Regions from separate parts of the Homo sapiens genome. Here region 1 is linked to region 2. Evidence: fine-mapped QTL for protein levels in blood plasma. A gene starts in region 2. The other region holds a variant in brackets. All regions are shown on one strand. Distances are between the middles of the regions. Region 1 overlaps AP4B1 (adaptor related protein complex 4 subunit beta 1). Region 2 holds the start of BCL2L15 (BCL2 like 15).

What was found. A credible set is the group of variants that fine-mapping cannot tell apart. PIP is the chance, under the fine-mapping model, that this variant and not a neighbour inherited with it causes the effect. Protein levels are from antibody-based Olink assays in UK Biobank. Linkage for the fine-mapping came from a reference panel and not from the study's own genotypes, which makes the PIPs less certain.
Region 1: its variant is the best candidate, but not a certain one, in a credible set for the plasma level of the BCL2L15 protein (UK Biobank, PIP 0.53).

Annotation. Positions count from the first base shown.
Region 1 is chr1:113,900,323-113,904,734 of GRCh38, reverse strand. It overlaps AP4B1 (adaptor related protein complex 4 subunit beta 1), which reads left to right. Exons shown (of 10, transcript NM_001253852.3): 1 at 1-130; 2 at 1,873-2,097; 3 at 2,850-2,980; 4 at 3,352-3,499; 5 at 4,335-4,412. The coding sequence starts at 18. It overlaps AP4B1-AS1 (AP4B1 antisense RNA 1), which reads right to left. Exons shown (of 5, transcript NR_125965.1): 5 at 3,498-4,412. It also overlaps a transcript of DCLRE1B not described here. Among named protein-coding and RNA genes, the nearest start is that of AP4B1, 2.3 kb to the left of the region's middle. RefSeq lists enhancers at 1-160, 241-300. The variant C/T (reference allele first, on the strand shown) is at 3,458.
Region 2 is chr1:113,883,411-113,891,776 of GRCh38, reverse strand. BCL2L15 (BCL2 like 15) reads left to right here and starts at 4,196. Exons shown (of 4, transcript NM_001010922.3): 1 at 4,196-4,528; 2 at 5,119-5,240. The coding sequence starts at 4,402. The region is part of intron 3 of AP4B1-AS1 (AP4B1 antisense RNA 1); the gene reads right to left.

The DNA of each region.
Region 1 (4,412 bases), 15 kb before region 2:
CTGTGACTCTTAGGAAGATGCCGTACCTTGGCTCCGAGGACGTGGTGAAGGAGCTGAAGAAGGCTCTGTGCAATCCTCACATTCAAGCTGATAGGCTGCGCTACCGGAATGTCATCCAGCGAGTGATTAGGTATCACCTACCTCCCTTCGCGTGCTAACTGCTCCCTTTGCAATCCCCATCAGGGCTCACTAGCCCCAGTCTCTCTGAAAGGGTGAATTAGCTTTCACACGTGGCAGTTATATGGTTCGGTCTTCGTCCTGCTGCTTTGGAGTACCATGTCAGTCTCCCCTCTGCAGCATCTTTTACTCAGCTGGGTAGTTTCCTCCATATCACGGGCTTGAGCAATTACTGGTGACTCTTGGATCTATAATATAGCTAGTACAGACTTCCTTTTTTAGCTTCAGACCCACGTATCCCACTGCCTGCTTGGCATTTCCACGTGCGTGGTTTATCAAAAGTATGTCCGAAATAGCCCGGACATTCTTCCGTCTTCCTCAAACCTGTTCAGCTTACATTTGTGTTGATGAATGCCACCAGCAGCCGACTATGCGTGGGAGCCAACCTTGAGGACACCTGATCTCTCACTTCTTATGTCAGATGGTTTGAATTCATAATTCTAAATATCCATCCTCTCTTGTTTATTAGCATTGTTGTTCTGGTCCAGGCCTTCATCAATAAAGCAATTGCAGCAGCTTACTAGTAGGCCACTTTGCCTCATTTGAGACAGAATTTTTCCATTATACATACCTGAACACATAACTCTTGCCTACAGCTATGGTTCACAAACTTTACTATGCATAAAAATCCCTTGGGGTGCTTTTTGTCATCCAGTCCAGGGACTGATTCTGATTTCAGTAGGGTGGGAGGGAACCCAGGAATCTGTATTTTTAATAAACATTTCAGTTGGTTCCAGTAGGAGACCAGTCTGAGAAACAATAAAGTCCAAACTTATCACAGCACCCAAGGAACAAGCTGTTAATTCAACTACCTACAGACTCTTAAAAAAATGTGTGCTGCTCCTGCTCATGTCTACTTACCTCATAGCATGTATCTTTACCTTGCTATTACATCTGCCTAGTGAGCTCCTGCTCATTCAGCTAAAGTATTACTTCCTCTGTGAAGAAACATTTTCTGACTTCCTGCCAGTGTCAGACCTCTGAATCCCCTCTACACCTTGTACAATACTTCTGTTTAAGTACTTATCTATCATACTGTAATTAACGGTATTCTCATCTGGCTCATTAATAGATTTGAAGTTCCTAGAGGTTTGAGACCACACCTTCTTCAAGATTATGTCCCAAGAGCATGTCCCTGGATGTAAAAGTTGAATTTCACCAAAGTACTAGGGATTCAATAAGTGTTTGTTGAGGCTGGGTGCGGTGGCTCACGCTGGTAATCCCAGCACTTTGGGAGGCCAAGGCGGGTGGATCACCTGCAGTCAGGAGTTCGAGACCAGCCTGGCCAACATGGAGAAACCCCGTCTCTACTAAAAATACAAAAATTAGCTGGGCGTGGTGGCACGCACCTGTAGTCCCAGCTACTCGGGAGGCTGAGGCAGGAGAATCGCTTGAACCTGGGAAGCGGAGCTTATAATGAGCCGAGATTGTGCCACTGCACTCTAGCCTGGGTAACAGAGCAAGACTCTGTCTCAAAAATAATAATAAGTGTTTGTTGAATGAATAGAAGAATAATGTTTATTGTAGGCCTATGGTATGAAGTACTGTGTGATATAATAGACAAGGTAATCCTGGCTGCTACCCTCTAAGAGATCACAATCTAGTTGGGTAATCAGGAGATATGTAAGTAAAACTCCCTCCATTGTAAGTTGGGGATTTTGCATTTTACTTCCTTCTGTCATGTGCGTTGTTCAGGTACATGACTCAAGGCTTGGACATGTCTGGTGTTTTTATGGAAATGGTGAAGGCCAGTGCCACTGTAGATATTGTCCAGAAGAAGTTGGTTTATCTGTACATGTGCACATATGCTCCCCTGAAACCAGATCTGGCTCTCCTGGCCATCAATACGCTGTGCAAAGACTGCTCAGACCCCAATCCAATGGTGCGAGGGCTGGCGTTACGGAGCATGTGTAGCCTCAGGTGAGTACCCTCTTCTCTGTCTGGTCCTAAATGGCTGATGAATTCAAGTGATCACAGGGTAGGTTTTTAAAGAGGATAATTTATTTGAGCTCCTTAATACTGGGGAAAACATTATTGTACCCTGAACTCAGATTTTCAGCCACTGCTTTGGCTTAATAACCTGTATCATATAATTTTATTAGAGGGAGTTTTTGATTCTCACTCTAAGTAAAATAGTCCTCAGTTTTGGTTAAATATCTCTAAACAATTATGTGTATATCTTTTTTTGCTGCCTGTGCATCATTATTCCAAATGAAAAGTCAAATTAGGCTGGGCACAGTGGCTCATGCCTGTAGACCCAGCACTTTGGGAGGCTTAGACAGGAAGATTGCTTGAGCCCAGGAATTTGAGACCAGCTGGGCAAGATGGTGAGAGCCTATATCTACAAAAAATTAAATGGGCATGGTGACACGCACCTGTAGTCTCAGCTACTAGGAAGGCTGAGGCAGGAGGATGGCTTGGGCCCGGGAATTCAAGGCAGCAGTGAGCTATGATCGGGCCACTGGGTGACAAAGTGAGACCCCATCTTGAAAAAAACAAGAAAAAAACAGAAAAGTCAAATTATGGCTTTTTAAGCTTGATAGAGGCTTTCTGCAATTCTTCATGATCTGATGGGTGCAGCATCTACTAAACCATCTGTTAGGTGAACAGGGGCTGAGGTATGTCAAAATTAGTATTTCAGAATCTGGCTAACTCCAGGATGTGTTGCTTAGGATGCCTGGTGTGCAGGAGTATATACAACAGCCTATTCTCAATGGTCTGCGGGATAAGGCTTCATATGTCAGGAGAGTGGCAGTCCTTGGATGTGCCAAGATGCATAATCTTCATGGAGACTCTGAAGTAGGTAAGTTCAGTGTAATCCATCATGGTCAATGTGCCTCCATTATGTATAACTTTAAAAAAGATTGTGTGGCTTTGGTAGAAAATAATAATGTGGCCCCAGTTCTGTACATATCTCTTTAAGTAGGATGCAGGGCTTGGTATCTTCTGGAGATGAGAAGTCCTTTCTCTGGGGCCCCAATGAGATCCTTTGTATTAGCTGCTTAGAACAGTCTGGACATGGCAGTTTTTTTTTTGCCTTGCACTTTAGTGTGGCCTTTGTCATTTTTGTAGCAGAGAAGTTCAACTTTGTCTACCTGGAGCTATTACTCTGGCTACATCCTTGTTACTCTGAAGCTTTCCTTCTTTATCTAAGAACTTTGTTCTTTTTTATAGATGGTGCCCTGGTAAATGAATTATACAGTTTGCTGCGTGACCAGGATCCAATTGTAGTTGTGAACTGCTTGAGGTCTCTAGAGGAAATTCTGAAACAGGAAGGAGG[C/T]GTTGTCATCAATAAGCCCATTGCTCACCATCTCTTAAATCGGTTTGGATGCCTCAGCACTCTTTTTATTATGAGATCTGCTACCTTGTGGGATCTTGTTGATGTATTAAAGTATTGAACAACTTATGTGGGGTAGAAAAGAAAGTTAACCATTATTATTATTATTATTTGAGACGGAGTTTTGCTCTTGTTGTCTAAGCTGGAGTGCAATGGCGCTATCTCGGCTTACCGCAACCTCCGCCTCCTGGGTTCAAGCAATTCTCCTGCCTCAGCCTCCCGAGTAGCTGGGATTATAGGCATGCGCCACCATGCCCGGCTAATTTTGTATTTTTAGTAGAGACAGGGTTTCACCATGTTGGTCAGGCTGGTCCCAAACTTCTGACCTCAGGTGATCCGCCCGCCTCAGCCTCCCAAAGTGCTGGGATTACAGACGTGAGCCACTGCGCCCGGCCAGTTAACCACTATTAACTCCCTCACATTCCACTGAGAGAATTTCTTTTATTTGCCTTACTTTCCCTTATTGATATAGGGAAATAGAAATATACTGTGGGAATAGGTTCTACCCTTCTCTAGTCATGTCCCCCAAACTAAGCCATTTATAGTGTCTTAAAATGTAAGGAACCTGGACCCAGTGTATGCTGATCATGTCTTTGGTCTTAGAGGAGTGTGCATTTGTATTAACAACTCATCTTGGAATTTTAAGCCTTTTTTGTGTAAACTTTAAATAGTACATGAAAAGTGACTTAATTATGGCACAGCCTATTTTTAAGAATTCTCCCTTTGCTATGATGAACAACCACCTGGTCATATGGCAGTGGCATGGAAATGGTCCTAATTTTGTTGCTAAAATAGCTCTTTTGTTTTGTTTTTTGGATAGAATGTCAAAACTGGACCAATGGGGCCAGGCTGAAGTATTGAACTTTCTGCTACGCTACCAACCCCGCAGTGAGGAAGA
Region 2 (8,366 bases):
GACCAGCCGGCCAACATGGTGAAACCCCGTCTCCACTAAAAATACAAAGAATTAGCTGGGTGTAGTGGCGGGTACCTGTAATCCCAGCTACTCGAGAGGCTGAGGCAGGAGAATCGCTTGAACTTGGGAGGCGGAGGCTGCAGTGAGCCGAGATTGTGCCACTGCACTCCAGCCCAGGTGGCGGAGTGAGACTCCATCTCAAAAAAAAAAAAAAAAAAAAAAGGCGTAGCAAGGGAACAGGATGCAGGTGGTAGAAATTGAGTAAACTTATTGACTTTTTAAAATTAAAGACTATAACTGAAATGTTGATCTAAAGAAAATTAGGTATGACTAAGCAACTGAATAAATAATAATACTAAAGTGATCCCAACTATTGGAGCTTTTAGAAGACTATGTTCTACTTGGTTGCTTTTCTATAATGTAAGAGGAATACATAGAATATGAAATTGTTGCTTTTGGAAAATATACTTTTAAGATTATCTCAATGAAGAACTGATTTCTCCTGTAGCCTGGTTTTACTAATTTATAAGCAAAATGACTAAAGCTCAGGTATACTATGAAGTTAATTCTTTAATATTTCCCCTGCTAGGAACTCTGTATAGCTTCTGCAGACATGGGGTTTGATGATGTGATATAAGTAGATGTTTATATTTTACAATCCATGAAGGTAGTCTATACTGTGCTCTTAGAACAGCAGCCATCTAATGTCATTCTTAGTTGACAGGTAAACAGTATGTTACGTATGTAATGAGGTTCCACAAAGACAATAGTGTTTTGGAACACTGCAGAGGCAATAATTTGCATATTACCATCATTTTATAGTTATGAATCAGTGACTGTGATGTGTTTCCATTACCCCTATTTTTGAACAGGCGTTCTGTTAAAAGTATTCTATTCCTTTCTTAGATATGGGATGTTTAGGGGAGAGGGGACACATTACTTGTTTTCTTAGTTACAAGTCTCCATGTTGAGAGGAGTTACACTCAAGGATCTTCATCCACATGCACATCTGGTACAGATGACAAGATCCTGGACTTTAAGCCAATGATATGAGACAAAGCATTTTGGGGAGGGATGTAATTTGTTGTGGTCAGAGGGTGGCAAGAGAAACAAGTGACGGTGAAAAAATTCTGGCCTCGTGATTTTTCAGTAATAATTAAGAGCACAATATTACAACTGCAAGGGTGAAGGTATGTGGGCTGAGGGAAAGGGATAGTTTTGGAGGGTGCTATATTGAAGGCCCAGAAGAAGTAAACAAACTTGGAAAAAATTTACTCCACATTGCTAATGACAGCCTGTACTCTGTTTCTATAGCTTTACAACATTGATTATACAAGACAATGCAAAGGAGTTGAAATTAGATTTTTTTTTTTTTTTTTTTTTTTGAGACAGAGTCTCATTTTGTCATCCAGGCTGGAGTGCAGTGGTGTGATCATGGCTCAGTGAAGCCTTGATCTGGGCTCAAGTGATCCTCCTGCTTCAGCCTCCTGAGTAGCTGGGACTATAGGTGCGTGCTACCACCCCTGGACTCAAAATTCGATTTCAAAGATGGCATAAGCGTATTGATAGTGAAATGAGGAACGTGGTTTATTACTGTGGGAAAAGCTTGAGTTTAATGTAAGACAGACTTGGTTTAAAATTTATATTCTGCCACTTACTGATGTGTGAACTTGGGCAAGCTATTTAATACCAGCTGGATGGTCTCATAAATATTTTTATTTTTTATATATTGTTTTGGGAGTATGTCACAAATGTATTTTTTAGAATCCTTCAACTGTCAGTGGCTAGCTCTAATGTGAAAGGAGGTTAGCCTAGAATTTTCTCTGAGTGCCCGCCCTTCTGATGTTAAAAGTCTGAAGCCTACTTAGTAATAATGAGGTTTCAGCCCTTTTGCCTCTAGAGAGAATGAGCGACAGATAATGACAAATGAAAATAGCACTTTAGCTACATGGGAACATAATTTGTGTTCTTACTCCAAAAGCAATTTATGATCATTTTTAAAAATTAAGACTTTTTAAGAGCAGTTTTAGGTTCAAAGCAAAATTGAAACAAAGGTACAGAGATTTCCCATATACCCTCTGCCCCAACACAAGCATAGTCTTCTCTGTTATCAACATCCTCAATCAAAGTGGTACAATTTGTTGTAACTGATGAACTTACCTCATCAATTATTACCCAAAGTCCAATTACCACCCAAATTCCTCCTCATCTTTTCATGGCCTGATCTTTTTTTTTGAGACACAGTCTTGCTCTGTCACCCAGGTTGGAGTGCCATGGTGCCCTCTCAGCTCACTGCAAACTCCGCCTCCCAGGTTCAAGCAATTCTCCTGCCTCAGCCTCCTGAGTAGCTGGAATTACAGGCGTGAGCCACCGCGCCCAGCCAGCTCATTTCTTTTTAGCACTAAATAATGTCTATTGTCTGTATGTATCACAGTTTATTTATTCATTTACCTACTGAAGGACATATTGGTTGCTTCCAAGTTTGGGCAGTTATGAATAAAGCTGCTATAAACAACCATGTGCAAGTTTTTGTGTAGATAAGTTTTCAGCTCCTTTGGGTAGATACCAAGGAGTATAATTGCTAAATCATATGGTAAGAGGATGTTTAGTTTTGTGAGAAACTGCTAAACTCTTCCAAAGTGGCTGTACCATTTTGCATTCCTACCAGCAATGAATGACAGTTCCTGACCCACATCCTCACCAGCATTTGGTTTTGCCAGTGTTCTGGATTTTGGCCATTTTAATAGGTGTGCAGTGGTTGTATGTGTTTTAGAATGGAACAGAAAACACAAGATTGGCTTTGATATTTTGCAAGATAGAAATTCCATTCTGAACAACTGACTTACTGTTTATGCTTGAATCTTTTTTTGTTTTTTTTTTTTTTGGAGACAGAGTCTTGCTCTGTCACCCAGGCTGGAGTGCAGTGGCGTAATATCGACTCATCGCAACCTCCGCCTCCCAGGTTCAAGCGATTCTCATGCCTCAGCCTCCTTAGTAGCTGGGATTACAGGCATGCACCACCACGCCCAGTTCATTTTTGTATTTTTTAGTAGAGATGGGTTTTGCCATGTTGGCCAGGCTGGTCGTGAACTCCTGACCTCCGGTTATCTGCCCGCCTCAGCCTCCCAAAAGTGCTGGGATTACAGGTATGAGCCACCATGCCCGGCCTATGCTTGACTCTTTTATTAGTTGGAGCTGTTAATATTAATAACTTCACCAGGTCAGACAGGTTGAGTGGTAAGTTTGCTGATAGGTTTGATGGCTGCTTCTGAGACCCAGACCCAAAATCTAGGTTTAGCTACGTTAAGAAGGCAACCACTACAGATAAGTGTCCAATCATGAGATCTCTTAAAACAATGATGGAGTCCAACCCTGTTAGGAAAATCCTTTTGCTAGACAGAGAATCTCAGATCTCTTTCCTCCTGGTCATTATGTCTTGGGCTAAAAGGAGGACATTTAACATTTATTGTATGCCAAACAGTGCTAGGCCATTCCGCATGTTATCTTATTTAATCCTCATAATTTATCTATGAAATATTTTCTGTTGTCCCCATTTATAATTCCAAGTTGTTTTTTTTTAACCTTCCCAGACTTTATATCTGCTACCTCTCCGCCTAGAATAGTGTTATGCCTCCTTTTTGCATAATGAATGCCTACTTATTCCTCAGAGCTCATGTCAGATGGTACTATTTTAAGGAAGCCTTCCCAGTCCCCTAGGTTTGTTTCCCTATTAAACTGATCAAAGGCTTGATTCCCTGTTACACTTCACTGATCAAAGTGCACTGATCTCAATAGCACAAATAACAATGCGATTACTCATTTAATATCTGTCATTTCTGCTGAAGTGTAAGCTTCATGAGCACAGTAACTGTGCCTGTATCATTTTTCTATGTTACTTGTAGTGCCAACTATAGTTCCTTGTTCAGTAAGTAATTATTATATGATTATGGCAAATAAATTCCATAAACAGAAGTTGAACGCTGGTCCACTGTAACTTCAAAACCTTCCTTCAAATTATACCATGTGCAGGACCTAAGAAGTCGAGGAAGTATTTCTTAATAAAATTACTCCAGAGGCTCTTCCTGAACTCTATTTCAGTTCTAGGTTGGCTACCTAACGATAAAAGTTAAGCATTAATTTTATGTGGTTAGGGTGTGGTCTGAGATAGAGAACCTAAAGTCTTTAAAGTCTCCCCAGTTCCAAGTAGGTAATCCTTCTGAGAAGTCCCACCTTTCTGAGCAGCTGTGTTTGAAGAAAGCTAGTGGGAAAAGTTCCAGGATTACATGTCAGGAAACTACAAGAGGTAGAAACATTTGTTGATTTACCAGTGTTTTTAACTTCCTGCTGGGCTGAAAACTGCTTGTTTCGTGGAAAAGCAAAACTTGACAGCAAACATCTAAAATGAAGAGCTCCCAAACTTTTGAGGAACAAACGGAATGCATTGTGAACACTCTACTCATGGACTTCTTGAGCCCAACATTGCAGGTTGCCAGCCGGAACCTATGCTGTGTAGATGAAGTAGATTCAGGTAAGGTTCCTGCCCTAGGCGGTGATTGCAGGTCAATAAGAGTATGTTTTCAGCCGGGCGCAGTGACTGATTCCCGTAATCCCAGCACTTTGGGAGGCCAAGGTGGGTGGATCACCTGAAGTCAGGGGTTTGAGATCCGCCTGGCCAACGTGGTGAAACCCCATCTCTACTAAAAGTAGAAAAATTAGCCAGGTGTGGTGGCTCATGCCTGCAGTCCCAGCTACATGGGAGACTGAGGCATGAGAATTGCTTGAACCTGGGAGGCGGAGGTTGCAGTGAGCTGAGATCACGCCACTGCACTCCAGTCTGGGCGACAGAGACTCGGTCTCAAAAAAAAAAAAACAGTATATTTTATTTATTTCCTTTAAGTTTCAAAAGGCAAACTCTAAGCTTTCAGTAACACCTAAAGCGAAAGAGGTTCTCAATGAAGGGAAACTTTCTGACTATTGGTGTTGACAGAACATTTAAGCTCTTGGGAGATCATGATATGAAAATTATTTAAAAGACAAGACAAATTTTTCTCATTGCCCAGATTCCTGGGACTTGCCATTGCTTCAAGCATTGTAACAAATGTGTTCCCTCTGTCATAGGAGAGCCTTGTTCTTTTGATGTGGCTATCATTGCTGGTCGCCTTCGGATGTTGGGTGACCAGTTCAACGGAGAATTGGAAGCTTCTGCCAAAAACGTCATTGCAGAAACCATTAAGGGACAGGTCAAGTTTCTACTTCATGCTATTGTTTGCTGCTTTTTTTTCTATTTCAAACTTCCTTTTCTTACTACTCCCATACTACAGTGACTAGGAATGTTCTATGAAAATATTTGGGTGCTTATATTTCAAGGAAGTATAGCAAGAATTCTCCAATTGCTAAAACCTAAGTGGTACAGAGATGGAAAATTTTGGGCATAGGCTGATGAACCTTCAGTTTGTCTCTACTTGGTCTTCATCACAGCTGTTGTGCTTAGTGTGCACAGAGCACATTTATAACACTTTATTCTTGGCAAAGTATAGTATCTTTTTTTTTTTTTTTTTTTTCAGACAGGGTCTTACTGTGTCACCCAGGCTCAAGTGCAGTGGTGTGATCTCAGCTCACTGCAGCCTCCACCTCCTGGGCTCAAGCGATCCTCCCACTGCAGCCTCCTGAGTAGCTGGGACTTCAGGCAAGTGCTACCATGCCCATCTATTTTTTTTATTTTTTTATTTTTAGTAAAGATGGGTTTTTGCCATGTTGCCCGGGCTGGTCTTGAATGCCTAAGCTCAGGTGATCCACTCACCTCGGCCTCCCAAAGTGCTGGGATTATAGGCGTGAGCTACCACACCCAGCCTATGCTTTTTTTTTTTGAGATGGAGTCTCACTCTGTCACACCCAGGCTGGAGTGCAGTGGCGCGATCTCGGCTCACTGCAACCTCCACCCACCGGGTTCAAGCAATTCTCCTGCCTCAGCCTCCCAAGTACCTGGGACTACAGGGGTGAGCCACCGCGCCTGGCCCATCTGGGCGGATCACCTGAGGTCAGGAGTTCCAGACCAGCATGGCCAAAATGGTGAAACCCCGTCTCTACCTAAAAATACAAAAATTAGCCGGGCGGATCACTTGATGTGAGGAGTTCAACACCAGCCTGGCCAACATGGAGAATCCCTGTCTCTACCAAAAATACAAAACTTAGCTGGGTGTGATGGCCCATGCCTGTAATCCCAGCTACTTGAGAGACTGAGGCAGGAGAATCGCTTGAACCCGGGAGGTGGAGGTTGCAGCGAGCCAAGATCACACCACTGTTCTCCAGCCTTGGCGACAGAGCAAGACTCTGTCTCAAAAAAAGAACCACCCTCTTAACCGTTATGCTTTATTCGTCCTACTATACACAGCTTGGGCAGTGTGCCTACACTATGTTCAGGCAGAGCTGGACCTGTTACTCCCAGTTGCTTGCCCTGAGGCTGTCCTAGGTAGTTGATAGCTGAGTTGACTTTTTTTCTCATTAAACATATTTTTTTTTTTGGCTGGGTGCTGTGGCTCATGCCTGTAATCCCAGCACTTTGGGAGGCCGAGAGGGGCGGACTGCTTGAGGCCAGGAGTTTGAGACCAGCCTGGCCAACATAGTGAAACCCCATCTCTACTAATAATACAAAAATTAGTTGGGCATGGTGGCACACACCTGTAATCCCAGCTACTCGGGAGGCTGAGGTAGGAGAATTGCTTGAACCCAGGAGGCAGAAGGAGGTTGCAGTGAACTGAGATCTCGCCACTGCACTCCAACCTGGGCAACAGAGCGAGACCCTCTCTCAAAATAAATAAATAAATACAAATACAAAAATTAGCCAGGCATGGTGGCACACAACTGTAATCCTAGCTACCTGGGAGGCTGAGACAGGAGAATTGCTTGACAGGGAGGGGGAGTTTGCAGTGAGCCGAGATGGTGCCATTGTACTCCAATCTGGGCGACAGAGCAAGACTCTGTCTCCAAAAAAAAAACATAAATAAATAAATAAATAATTTGACTTGAACTTGTTTTAATAAAAAAAAATATATTTTGAAACAGCCCTAAACTCAGGGAAAGGTTGCAAGGATAGTACAAATAATTTCTCTCTTGAATCATTTGACAGTAAGGAGTTGACATATTTCATCAACCCCTAATACTTTTATACTTCCCTCAAACAAGAACATTCTGTAATGTAACCACAATCTAACCATCAAAACCAGGAAATTAACATTGATTCATTATCATCTAATCCTTAGATCTCATTCAAGTTTTGCCATTTGTCCCGATAATGTAATTTATAGTAAAAAGTTGTAGGCCAGAATCACATACTGCATTTAGTTGTGATTTCTCTTTAGTTTCCTTCAATCTGGAATTTTTCCTTAGTCTTTCCTTGATTTTCATGACCTTGACACTTGAAGACTATGGTCTATCTTGTTGAATGTCCCTTAACTGGGGTTTGCTTGATGTTTCTTCTTGAATAAATTAAGGATATATACCTTTGGCAGGAATATCACAGAAGTATTGCTGTGTTCTCAGTGCATTGCATCAATTGGCACAAGATTTCATTTTATACCAGTATTGATGTTGTTAACTTTAATCACTTAAGATGGTGTCTGTAAAGCTTCTCCTCTATAAAGTTACTCTTTTCCCCTTTGTAATTAATAAGTGTTTTATGGAGAGGTACTTTGAAACTATGTAAATATCCCACATCTCATCAAAATTTCATTGCATTCATTTCTTATCAGCATTGGACCCATGAATTCCTACTTTATTCTGTGGATTATAATCTGTTAACATCATTATTAATTTAGATGCTCAAATCATCCTAGTTTTAGCTAGTGGGAGTCCTTTCACTCTAGACTGCATCTCTTTGATGTGTCTCTATTATTATTTGAGTACTTCCTTAATTTCTGACAGAATATCTTATACTTCCCTAGCCCCAAACTGAAATCAACCATTCTCCAGAGAGCTCTGGTTTCTTTTATTTTTTGAGACGGGGTCTCACTCTGTTGTCCAGGCTGGAGTGCAGTGGCACGATCTCCGCTCACTGCAACCCCTGCCTCTCGGATTCAAGCAATTCTTCTGCCTCAGCCTCCTGAGTAGCTGGGACTACAGGCACACACTGCCACGCCTGGCTAATTTTTTTTTTTTTTTTGTATTTTAGTAGAGACGGGGTTTTACCATGTTGCTCAGGCTGGTCGCGAACTCCTGAGCTCAGGCAATCCGCCCACCTTGGCCTCCCAAAGTGCTAGGATTACAGGTGTGAGCCACCGCCCGCCTTTTTTTTTTTTTGAGACGGAGTCTTGCGCTGTCGCCCAGGCAGGAGAGCAATGGCGCAATCTCGGCTCTCTTCAACCTCTGCC